Linked DNA regions of Homo sapiens: regions 1, 2 and 4 are each linked to region 3. The links come from fine-mapping of genetic effects on gene expression. A gene starts in region 3. Each other region holds a variant in brackets. All regions are shown on one strand. Distances are between the middles of the regions.

The links.
Region 1: its variant is fine-mapped to the expression of TSPAN11 in spleen (GTEx, PIP above 0.99).
Region 2: its variant is fine-mapped to the expression of TSPAN11 in nasal epithelium (TOPMed, PIP above 0.99).
Region 4: its variant is fine-mapped to the expression of TSPAN11 in prefrontal cortex (GTEx, PIP above 0.99).

Annotation. Positions count from the first base shown.
Region 1 is chr12:30,862,368-30,865,050 of GRCh38, reverse strand. No RefSeq gene overlaps it. Among named protein-coding and RNA genes, the nearest start is that of TSPAN11, 63 kb to the left of the region's middle. The variant T/C (reference allele first, on the strand shown) is at 1,286.
Region 2 is chr12:30,951,285-30,953,967 of GRCh38, reverse strand. The region is part of intron 1 of TSPAN11 (tetraspanin 11); the gene reads right to left. Among named protein-coding and RNA genes, the nearest start is that of TSPAN11, 26 kb to the right of the region's middle. The variant G/A (reference allele first, on the strand shown) is at 1,462.
Region 3 is chr12:30,925,609-30,928,291 of GRCh38, reverse strand. It overlaps TSPAN11 (tetraspanin 11), which reads right to left and starts at 1,544. Exons shown (of 8, transcript NM_001370302.1): 1 at 1,496-1,544. LOC124902911 (a long non-coding RNA gene) reads left to right here and starts at 1,603. Exons shown (of 2, transcript XR_007063264.1): 1 at 1,603-2,683.
Region 4 is chr12:30,974,468-30,977,150 of GRCh38, reverse strand. All of the region lies in intron 3 of TSPAN11 (tetraspanin 11), which reads right to left. Among named protein-coding and RNA genes, the nearest start is that of TSPAN11-AS1, 30 kb to the left of the region's middle. The variant T/C (reference allele first, on the strand shown) is at 1,140.

The DNA.
Region 1 (2,683 bases), 63 kb after region 3:
ATACGGTGGGGTGCATACAGTGAAATATTCTGCAGTAGTCAGAAACCATGAATCAGATTTAGTGACAAGATCTTCAAAAAGGTAGTGTTGAATGAAAAAGTGAGATATATAACCCAATATCACTCTTATTAAATAAAAGCACATACATTCTCAAAAATGTTAGGTATTCTTCAGTGAAAGGACATTTGAGTGGGTCCCTGTGGGTAGGAGTGGGAAGGGGAGATGAAGGGAAAAATGATGGGGCTTGCACACAACTGTGAGATCATCTGCCATGACCCAGAGAGGAGAAAGCTGAGCTTTCTGAATTGGAGGTTCAGTTGTTAAGAAGGAAACCACCATCATTAAAATCTTTTGGGACTGTTGAGTAACCCAGAGTAAGGTTGCTCAGAAAAGAGAGAAGGCTAACACTGAGGTGCTCCCGAGAGGCTCCTACATTGACCCCATTCTCTGAGGGTTACTAGGCACAAGCAAGAAAAGATAGTAGGGAAATGCAGATTTTATCAATTCCCATTCACTGTTATATATCCACATGCACAGAATTAAAAGCAGGCCAACATTCTTCATGCTATCTAAAAAAGGTTTCTGGGCCACCTTTCCTCACTGCTATTTCCTAGACATGCTAATTTCAACATAACCTTAAGCAACATAAAATCAGGGAGCAAAAGCTATTTAAACACACATACCATAAAATGGCACTCTGTCCAGATACCCTACAGATTCTTCAGTCTTTTCCCTCTCACAATGGGAGACGGTTGATATAGCAAGTTACAGAAGGAGCTTCCCAGAAAAAGAAGCTGAGGGCAGGGGTTATTTCCAGACACTGGTGCCCAGAAGCCACTGATCAGGATGTGTGTTCAGGGGACGTGTGTGTTGTGGGGGACGGTGAACATGGATGAAGCCCCATTTTTTAAAAAACTCAGATCCCAGCTGAGACTCCCACAGGGTGCAAGGGTTTACATGAGGCCATGATTAAAAGGCAGGACTGACTGGGGGGGCTCAGGAGGAAATGTTCCCAACAGGGTGCTTGACTACTGTAGCCCAGTGGAATTCTTCACTTTCAGGCCAGGCAAAGGTCATGAGGCAGAGGCATCTCTGGAGAAGTTTGCTTTGCTTTGCTCTTTAAGCACTGCAGAAAGAGCATTGGATTGGGGAATAGAAGACTTTCTTGTCTTTACTCTGCCTGTTCCCAGCTGTTTGAGTCTCTGCTATTAAACAGGAAAAATTAGGCCAGTCCTGCCTACTCAAGGGAAGGGGGGATAGGTTGTGAGGTTCATGAAGTTAAACG[T/C]GCATAAATGCTTTTAAATCTGTCAAGTGCCATATGGCTGTAGAAATGACAATGTCATGTGCTTTGATCTGCGCCTTCTCTGAACCACACAGGCTTGTGAGTCCTTTCCTAGTCCTAGGATGGGAGTTAAGCTTGATGTATTTCATCTGCAGGAAAATGAAGGATTGGTCCTGGATGACACCCTGCATCCGCAAAGAAACTGAGGCCCAATATCCAATTTATTCCTCCTTAGGAGGAATGATTTTGGGGGTTAGGGGAGGATGGCATGTGTTCAGAATGGAGAGTTCACACCTGTGATGAGGTTGGGTGAAGGCTTGGCCTCAGTTGCCCTGTGACTTTGCGTGAATGTTACTGGGTGCCTCAGGCTCTGCTCACCTACTTATAAAATAAGTAAAAATATCCCCCTCCCCATCCTGACTGTGTGAAGATGGTTAGGATCCAGTTACACACTGAGTTCATCTAAGTCCTGGAGAAAGATTCAGCTTTTCTTGTTGCGCATCTCCATCACCTTCATCTTTGGCACTCACTTGCTTTTAAAACGCCTTAATACAGTAACCACAGAAACAGTGGGTGACTTTCAAGTCCATGCCTTGGAAAGTCAAAAGTTCTCCATCTTTTCACTGCCCAGCAGCCCCAAGTGAGCCAGGCGCTGAGCTACTGTGATAAAATTTTGGTTTCATCCCTCAGAACCTGGGTCACCATTTGCTTTCTTCTTCTTTTTTTGTTTTTGAATGAGCTACTATTGTCAGAATGCAGGAGATGTCTGTTAATAAACTAAAGATTTCATGCCACCAGTGATTTTTCTAAGAGGAGACCAGAATGCAGCTGACCAGTCTTACTTGTCTCCTTTTGTGTTGAGAAGTTTTGACTGGGTACATGGTCCTTATTGGGTTTTGGGGCTGCTAATATGATTTTGCTGCCTGGAAACGCAAAAGCCATGAGTCAGTTAAGAAGCAAGGTGAAGCTATTTCCAGCATCTCCCAGTAAGGATGGAGGCCTGGGTGATGGTAGAAATGAATCTAGCAGGCAAGGCTGTTCTTTCTCTCCAGGGATGCCTCAGCCTCTGTGGCAGAGCGATACTTTATCTTTGGACGCACAGGCTCTGCATTCCTGCTTCTGGGCAGCCTGCCCAGCTAGTGTCCCAGCGGACGGGGAGATTCAGTAGGTTCAATTTGATTCAATTCAGCAAACATTTACTCACCTCCTACTGTGTCCAAAGTAGACAAAAATAAAGGTCTTCTTTTTTCTTTTAGATTATGAAAATGAAGTATTCTTGTTCTAACATTTTAAGTGTTAAGCTGGAAGGCCACCCCCTTACCCCTTCAACCACACCTCCCTGAGGTACTCAATGTTGAGGTTGCATTATTATTATTATTTTTGTTATTTAGTTTTTATTTC
Region 2 (2,683 bases), 26 kb before region 3:
ACATATGCTGGGCCGGGGAATCACCGAGAACCACCTTGTCCTTCCCAGAGCCAGAGCATCTTGGCAAGGCTCCCTTCAAAGGGCTCATTAACCTATCTGCCGGGGGCTTTGAGGCTCTGCATGTGCAGCATGGAGCAAAGATGTGGGAATTGCTAAGGAGACCAAATAGAGGTGAATTGGGGCAGAATCTTCCAGACCTTTAGATGTCAGTTTTGTCCTCTTGACAAAGGTCTAACCTACAAGTCTCCCACAGAATTTGCGCTGGTCTTACTGTGTTCTTAATCTCTTTTCCTGTCTCACCAGGGTTGCAGGACACAAGTTTACCTGTCCTACACGCACACACACACTCAGCATCACTACTTTGCATAGGAAACTTGCACTCTGCATCATTTGAACAGGACTCTGCATCCACAGGTGTGGCCTGAGCCCCAGAGCAGAGCACCTGTGTTGGAAAGGGCCCCAGTGATCACCCAGTCCACCCCACCTGGCCGCTGCAGCTTGACTTTTCAGATGAGGAAGCAGGCCCAGACAGGCCTGGTGGTTTGGCAGGAAGAAGCACAAGAGCCTCTGGAGTCTGACTCTCTGGGTTCACACCCTGATCTGTCACAAGATGTGTGATACTTTGGGCAAGTTACATGACCTCCCATCCCTCAGCATTCTCATCTGTAAATGGGGATAATAATGACACATATATCATAGGGTTGTTTTGAAGATTAAATGAAATAATCTATGTGAAGTGTTTAACATAGTCCTTGGCATGTAATAAGTGTTCAATGTTAGCTATTATTACATGTCAAAGAACTGGGGCTAGAGCCTAAGACTCTAGTCCTAAAACTCCCGTCTTTACCCCAGCACCATGCTGTCCCTCGCTCTGATGCCCACTGATGGACTCTCTGGGAAGTATGACATCAATGGTGGTGATACAGGCAGAGAGGGCCTACTGTGCCTGGTAATCCTGTTTGCTTCTCAGTCTGAACCTCAGAAAGTCTGAAGCCTTTGTAGTTTCCTCTTCTCCTCGAGCTGCATGTGCCCCTGGGCACCTGCACACCCACACTCACAGAGTAGTTGCTCTTTAAGAAATTACCCCCATTTTGGGAACCTCTTTTTATTTCAGAACCATAAGCAATGAGGCATGGCTTATGCTTATTCAGGCAGACGATCAGCCAGTCGTCCTGTTCAGTCTTATAATGGACCATGGCTGCTGGGCCTGCAGAGAAGACACACATGCCGGGCCAGGGGAATTTAGCATTTCCATCTCTTCCTCCATTATTTCCAACCCCCAACTGGACCATCCTTTCATCCTATTCTTGCCTCCTGGGCTGGTGCGTGACCACGCCCCAATTATTTCCTCTGAGCCACTGTTCTGCCTCTTATTTCAAGCTCATGGGCTCACTGAGACAGGAAGAAAGGAAGAGGGAAAAGACAATGTGGCTGACTTATTTGTGATTTCTATTTGCAGAC[G/A]TTGAAGAAGGTAATTTAAGACTGCTAGTCTTCTCGTTAAGAAAACACAAAACTCATTTTTCTCCAATTCAGTTTTCGAGGTAGGGTGGTGGAATAAATATAAAAGGAGAAAAAAAGGAAGCCTGTAAGAAATGTCCGTGGATGGGGTCGGCCAGGGGATCTAATGGGAGCGATTTCACGGCCATTATGCAGTCAGTCCTGACAAGAGACCAGGTGCAGCGTCTCCTGGGCCACCGCAGGCCCTTAGCAAGTGGCAGAGTTTGTGGGGCCTGGCCACTCCTGTCTGCAGTCTCCCTCCCCTCCCAGGCAGGGCCACTGGACTTCTGCCCCAGAGCTTTCTCTCTACTTGCAGCAAAGAGGCCTGATTCACTCACTCAAACCACAGAGTCAGGGCCCTGCCCTCTAAAGGAAAATTGTATTTTTTAAAAAGAACTTCAGGCAGAAGACAAGGCTTAAGGAAAAGAAACCATTCTAATGGTAAAATTTCAGTCATTAGTGGTGGGGAAAATAGAACCACAAAATGTCAGGGTCAGGGGAAACCTTTGGGCTCACTTAATTCAATCTTCTGCAGAAAGAATGAGGAATTTTACATATTTAAGATGCATATTTAAAAATGACTTTTCTAAGGTCACATGGCTAATCTGTAGTTGAGTTTCCTATTCTCCACCATTCAGTGCTCCTTTCCCCTAACACCATATTTGGGGCCCAGGGTGGCAGAGGCTCCAAAGAAGTGTCAGTACCAGCCTGCAGCCAGATGACTGGATCTGAAAGCTAGCTTTGCCATTTTACTGGCTGTGTGACCTTGGGCAAGTTATTTAACCTCCCTGTGTAGCTAGTATTTATGGAACACTTACTATGTGCCAGGTACAGAACTAAGTGCTTTACACTCATTATTTCGGTCCATCTTCCCAATACCCCTATGAAATAGGGTTATTTCCATTTCATAATATAATCGAGGTTTAGACAGGTTAAATAATTCATCCAAAGTCACATAGCAAGTACATGACAAAGCCAGAGCTGAATAAAGAATCTCTGCCTCTGGGCTCAAGCTTTTACCCACTGTGCAATACTCACAGGACCAGATCTACCAGGGCAAAGGAGGAAGGGGAGCGACCAGAGACTGCTGGTTCCCCTAATATTTGTTAGAATATTTGTTAGAATAGAACTTCTCAATTTTAGTTAGATACTTAGTCACCTGGAACAGACAACATTTCCCAGCCTC
Region 3 (2,683 bases):
AGAAAAGCAAGTTGGTGGTTATAAATGTCCTGGGCTCATCTGAAGAAAGGCTCTCTGGAAAGTCAAGGTGCTCTAGGCAGACTTAAAGACATCAACGCCAGTTTTCCTCTTGTTCTGCAGCACTCACACAAGAACTATGGGGAATCACACAGGCCTGTACATATTTTACACACGAGTCCAAAGGTGGGTATAAAATTCCTGCTATGCTGAATATAGTGGGAAACAGCACACAAATGCCTCCCTCTGCTACCCACAAACCAAACAGCTCTGGGCCACCTAAGCCCTCGCCAGACCACCAACTTGGCCCCTGTAGGCCAGTAGTGCCCCTTACCCTAGGAGTCTTAACTATCATCAAAGCATTTCCAGGCATTAATTGGAGCCTCCAGTCCCTTGGGAGACAGATGGGGCCAGTGGTTATTAGTCCCATTTTGCACAAAAAGCAACTGAGCCCCAGATGACCTATCTGTCCAGGGAACAATGCTACTGACACAGTGACAACCATTAAGTTCTGATTCAAACCTGTCTCCAGCCTCTAACTGCTGCTTTCCACTGCAATCCAGCTGCCCACAAATTGAACACAGACTATCCACTTTGGCCTAATACCACCCTCATTCTCTTCTTCACGCTCCCCCACACACACCCTATGCCCCAGAGTGCACTTATGAGTTTTTCCAGAAGCTGCCTCTTCTCCTCACCCCCCACCCCCACGCTCACCTCACAATACTTGCCACGAACTGGAGACCTCTGGAACACTTATTCCTCCTGCACACAGCAGCTTAGACTCAAGTTAAGATGCTGTCCCGCCAAGCCCAACTGGGCTGCCTCCCTTTCATACTTTCCACCAATTCACACATGTGCACACTGCACATATGGCTGGTGAAAAGGATACACCCCAGAACCTTCCATGCCTTCTTTCCACACGGAGCCGGCCAACTGCACATGCAGGGATGGGCACGAAAACACAGGTGACAGGGCCTACACAGCCATGTTGTCACAAATACACAGACGTGCCCAGAACATGAGGACATCCCTGCACAGGCAGACAGGCCCTCTGAAAGCAATGTGCACCAGATACAGCATTTTGGTGTAGCCATGAGAGGCAGCTACTCGAATTCAGGGTGGACAAAGAATGACATTTTCAAGAGGAACAGACATGCCCCGGGCACGCTGGACGGCACGAGGCCCTCAGAGGCCCAGAGCTCTCTCCCAAGGCACAAGTGCAGAAAGGCAGACTCATGCGCATAGTTATGGACACCGTGTTGCGTGTCCCATGCAGACACCAATACCTGCTCACATGCCCCGCGAGTGTCCCAGGCATTCCTGCCTCCTCCACTCCTCATCCCCAGCCGGCTTCCCTCTGCCCGCCCGGGGGAAGCTCGGGACAGTCTAGCTCGGGACTGCCGGCGGGGCGGGCAGCGGAGGTGGAGGCGCCTCTCCTGGACCCCCAGCCCCCTCCCGCGGCGCCCCCACTCCTCGGGCGCGCTTCTGCACTTACCCTGCCAGGGGCTCCGGAAGCGGCGAAGGGAGCTGCGCCTAGAGAGACTGAGAGCGGCGGCTCCCGGGGCCGCCCAGCCGCCCACCGCCCGCAGCCAGCGCTCCTCCCTCCCAGCCCGGGAAGGTCAGCGTGTGGGCAGCCCGGCCCGCGCCCCTGCGCCCACTGAGGCTTCCTGCCGGCCCTCTAGTCCCCGCCTGCCCAGCGCTCGGCCGCGACGCCCCGGCGCCGGCTCTCCCAGCCCAGCCGGCAGGACGCGCCCGGGAGCCCCGCACGCGAGCTGCCGGCTCTTTGTTTGGGGGTTTGCCTCTCTGCGATTCAGAGCACGCGGAGGGAATTAAGTCAGAGTCCGAGGCAGCTGTGCGGTTGCCGGGGGGATCCCTAAGGGGGGCGGGGCAAAAGGACGGACTAGTAGGGCGGTGGAGCGGCTTTCAAACTCCCCGCGCTCCGCAGCTCCCCGCTTAGGTCTCCCTGCCCTTTACGTTTGTCGGCCCCTGGGAGAGGTTGGCCTTTGGGGGTTTCCAGGGACCCTAGGGACAAGCCTGTCTGATAAGAGAGAGGTTCTCCATCCCCCTTCCTCACCAGCCCCCATCACTGCCGTGTCCCTCTTAGAGTCCTGTGGAGCATCAGCTTTACATTTCCTGGGCCCCGGGGAGAATCAAGGTCTCTCTAATCTGAAGCAAAAAGGAATAACAGAGAGTAGAGCCCATCTGTTCCTGCTGAGTCCCTGTGAAGGTGCAAAGCTGGCCCTAACGGGACTGGCCCTAACAGTGGGGCATGGATTATCTATTTCCCAAAGTAACAAGGGCCTTGTGCTTATCCAACCGTGTTCTTTTGAAACTTAGCTGCAGTGAGGAAGATTACCCATTTACCAGGTTGCTAGATCAGGGAAGCCACTGGAGGCAGGGGACGCTGACAAAGCCACTGTACCGGGAGCACCAACGTTCTAAATACCCCAGCTGGCTGCTGAGAAGGGCTTCGCGGGGGGCCACACAGGAAGGAGATGATTCCAATAGTCCCGTGAGATGAGGACCTTAACTGGGGGATGAATGCGGAAGCTGCAGCAAAGGAGAGTCTACAGACTGTGTGGTGTAGGAGGAGCACACTGGGGCTGTAACATTGTGGAAGTCTGGAGGAGAACCTGGAGTGATGTGACTGAGTTTAGTGTGGAGCAAGTTGGATTGGAGAAGC
Region 4 (2,683 bases), 49 kb before region 3:
TTTCTTTTCACAGGAAAAGAACTGTGGTCCAAGAGCAAGGTTTCCTTTCAAATGAAGTGCATTACCCACCTCCTCATTGCAATTTTACTGTGTCCTATAGGCTCCCAGCATCAGGGACACAGAGTTTCCAGTCTCAGAATAACAGTGTCAGGCCTAGCCCCATCATTTGTGGGGCCTGAGGCCAAGAGCACAAATGCAAGGTCCCTGCCCCTTCCTTTCCTACCCCAGGCTCTTCGCTGCATCAGGAAAAACCTCCAGCTCTGTGTGCCCCTCCCCCAGGGTCAGATGCCCCTTGCGGGATGGGAGGTGTGTGGAGAGGGCTGGGTGTGGTGCAGGCTAGGGGCACATATGCCAGGGGTCTAGTCAGCCTCAGGACATGCTTGCAGATGCTGCCTGCAGGCACAGGTTGTCTGGACAGAGGATTCACTCTCCTGGGTCCCTGGGAGGAGGTCAGGAAGTGGCGGGAGGGAGTTGCAGATTCCACAAGGGGATGTTCCCTCTGCCCTACGGACTTTCCACTCCCTGGGGAGGAGTGTGGTTGAAGGGGGCCTCAGGACAGGGGCCTGGGTCTGCGTGTGGTACTGAGTGGTATGCAGGGTAAGCTGAGGCAGGAGGCTGAAGAGAGCGTCTGTGGATGGTCCTCCTGCTTGAGGAGCCTCTGAGAAGCAGGGCCCAAACACTGAGGAAAGCTGGGGGAAATGTCAGTGGACTTGGGTTGGGTCCAGGCTCCACCACATGCTGGCTCTAGCTGGATGGCTGCTAGTGCTTAGGTGCAAATTAGAAAAACGTGGCTCAGCAAGAGTTGCATGGGCTGGATTTCAGCCTTCTTTGGTCCCCTCGTGTAGGACGCAAAGTTTAGGGACAAGGAGGACCCAACGAGGGGGAAATGTACTTTCCAGTGATCTAACCCGCCTCCTGCCCTCCCAGAGCTCCAGGTCCCACAGCATGAGGGGTACGGTCCCTGTCAGCCAGAGGCAGGCGTAGCCAGCCCATGCCAGAGTGTGATCCCCCTGGGAGAAGCCCGGCCCATCAGACAGAGCATGGCTACACATTCACCCTCACCCCACCCAGGGTGAGGCATCCTTGTTTCTGAGTCTCCTTGACTCAGGGGCTCTCCCCTGCCATGCGCTGCTGGGCCC[T/C]GCGGCTCCTTTCTGACATGCGTGCCCTTCCTGCCTGCTCCAAACTTCCCTCCACCATCCTCAGCTACGGTGCTGAGGCCGGATCCCTCCTGCTGCACAGGACCTGAAGGCATTGATGCCAGTGGCTCCCAGAGACCTCTGGGGCATGGGAGGAAGAGGTGATGGAGTGCCCCTGACAGGAGCACCCAGGCTGCTGGCAGCTAGGAGAGCCACATCCTGGCATCTCTCCACCTTCCTTCTCTCCACCACCACTGTGAGCTGTGAGTCAGGCCCGTAGGATACTCCTGGATAGCTGGCAGTGTCACGCCACTTCTCGGGGGAAGCCACTGCCCCAGTTACTATTGAAGACGGGGTGGGGAACAGGGAGGATGGGGAGGTAGAGATACTGAACCTCACCCATTGGTTTAGTGGCTGGCTAAATTAGTACATGCTACCCCTGCACAGGCTGGTTCAGAGGCATCAAACAGGCTATCTGACCTGCGGAGTGGTCAGGAGGAGGGGAGAGAGCTTGGCAGTGGCGGTGGTGTGTGGGGATAGCCTTCTCGAGCTCCAGTGTGTTAAGATGCCTGGAAGGGGAGTGAGGGCCTGGCCTGGGGCTTCAAGGGGACTGAGGCCGGGTGCTGGTGGGCACAGGTGCTGGCTCCAGGCAGCAGCTTCCACAGCAGGGAGGCTGCGGGTGTGTGACTCACCTGGACAGGTGTGTGACAGGCCCAGGAGGCAGGCAAAGGGTCCCTCATCAAGATGCTGGGACTTCAGCCGGGTGAGGTCATGGGCTCTGACAGACCTGTCACCTCTGCCCCTCCACCCTGCACCTTACCCAGCCTTTCCTGACTCCCTGGGTCCGGCGCGATCATCTCAGGGCCCCTGCGGCACACGCTGGCTCTGTGTGCAAAGCTGAAAAGTGTTCCTGGTGTTGCTGCACACAGTTCTCTTCACACAGGCCAAGCGTCCAGCCTTTGGGCCTTTGCCCTGCCTGTCCCCCTGCCTGGAATGCTGGTGCCTACCTGTCCTTCCACACCCAGCTCGGCTCAGTCTTGGCTCCACCAGGCTATCCTTGGGCAGGAGCAACTGCCACTCCCCACCGTCTGAATGCCTGCAGCGCGTCATCTGCTGTCTCCTGACACCTGCACTCTCTGCTTTGCCCTTCTCTCCTCAGCTGGACTGGGCTTCACCTCTGTGTCCCTCCCCTTCGCCTGCCGTGCGGTTCCTCAGTGTAGGTCATCACCGGATGAGTGACACAACTTTACCCATTGCTCCGTAGCACTGCTCTTGCTTCAGGTGTTACCACTCTGTCCCCTAGCATGACTGTGAGCTTCGGAGAAACAGGGACCACATCTGAGGTTGCTTCTGGCTCCTCCACAGTGCCTGGTATGGTGCTGGGTCTAGACATAACGCTTAGCAGACATCCCCTGATAAAGACGCAGGAGTGCACTTTCTAATAAAGTACACCTATGAGACAGCAGAAACTGGCTGGAGCATAACCAGCCCCATGCTGCGGGCAGTAGCTTAATCTTTTTCTGATCTGAGAGTAGCATAGCACAGTT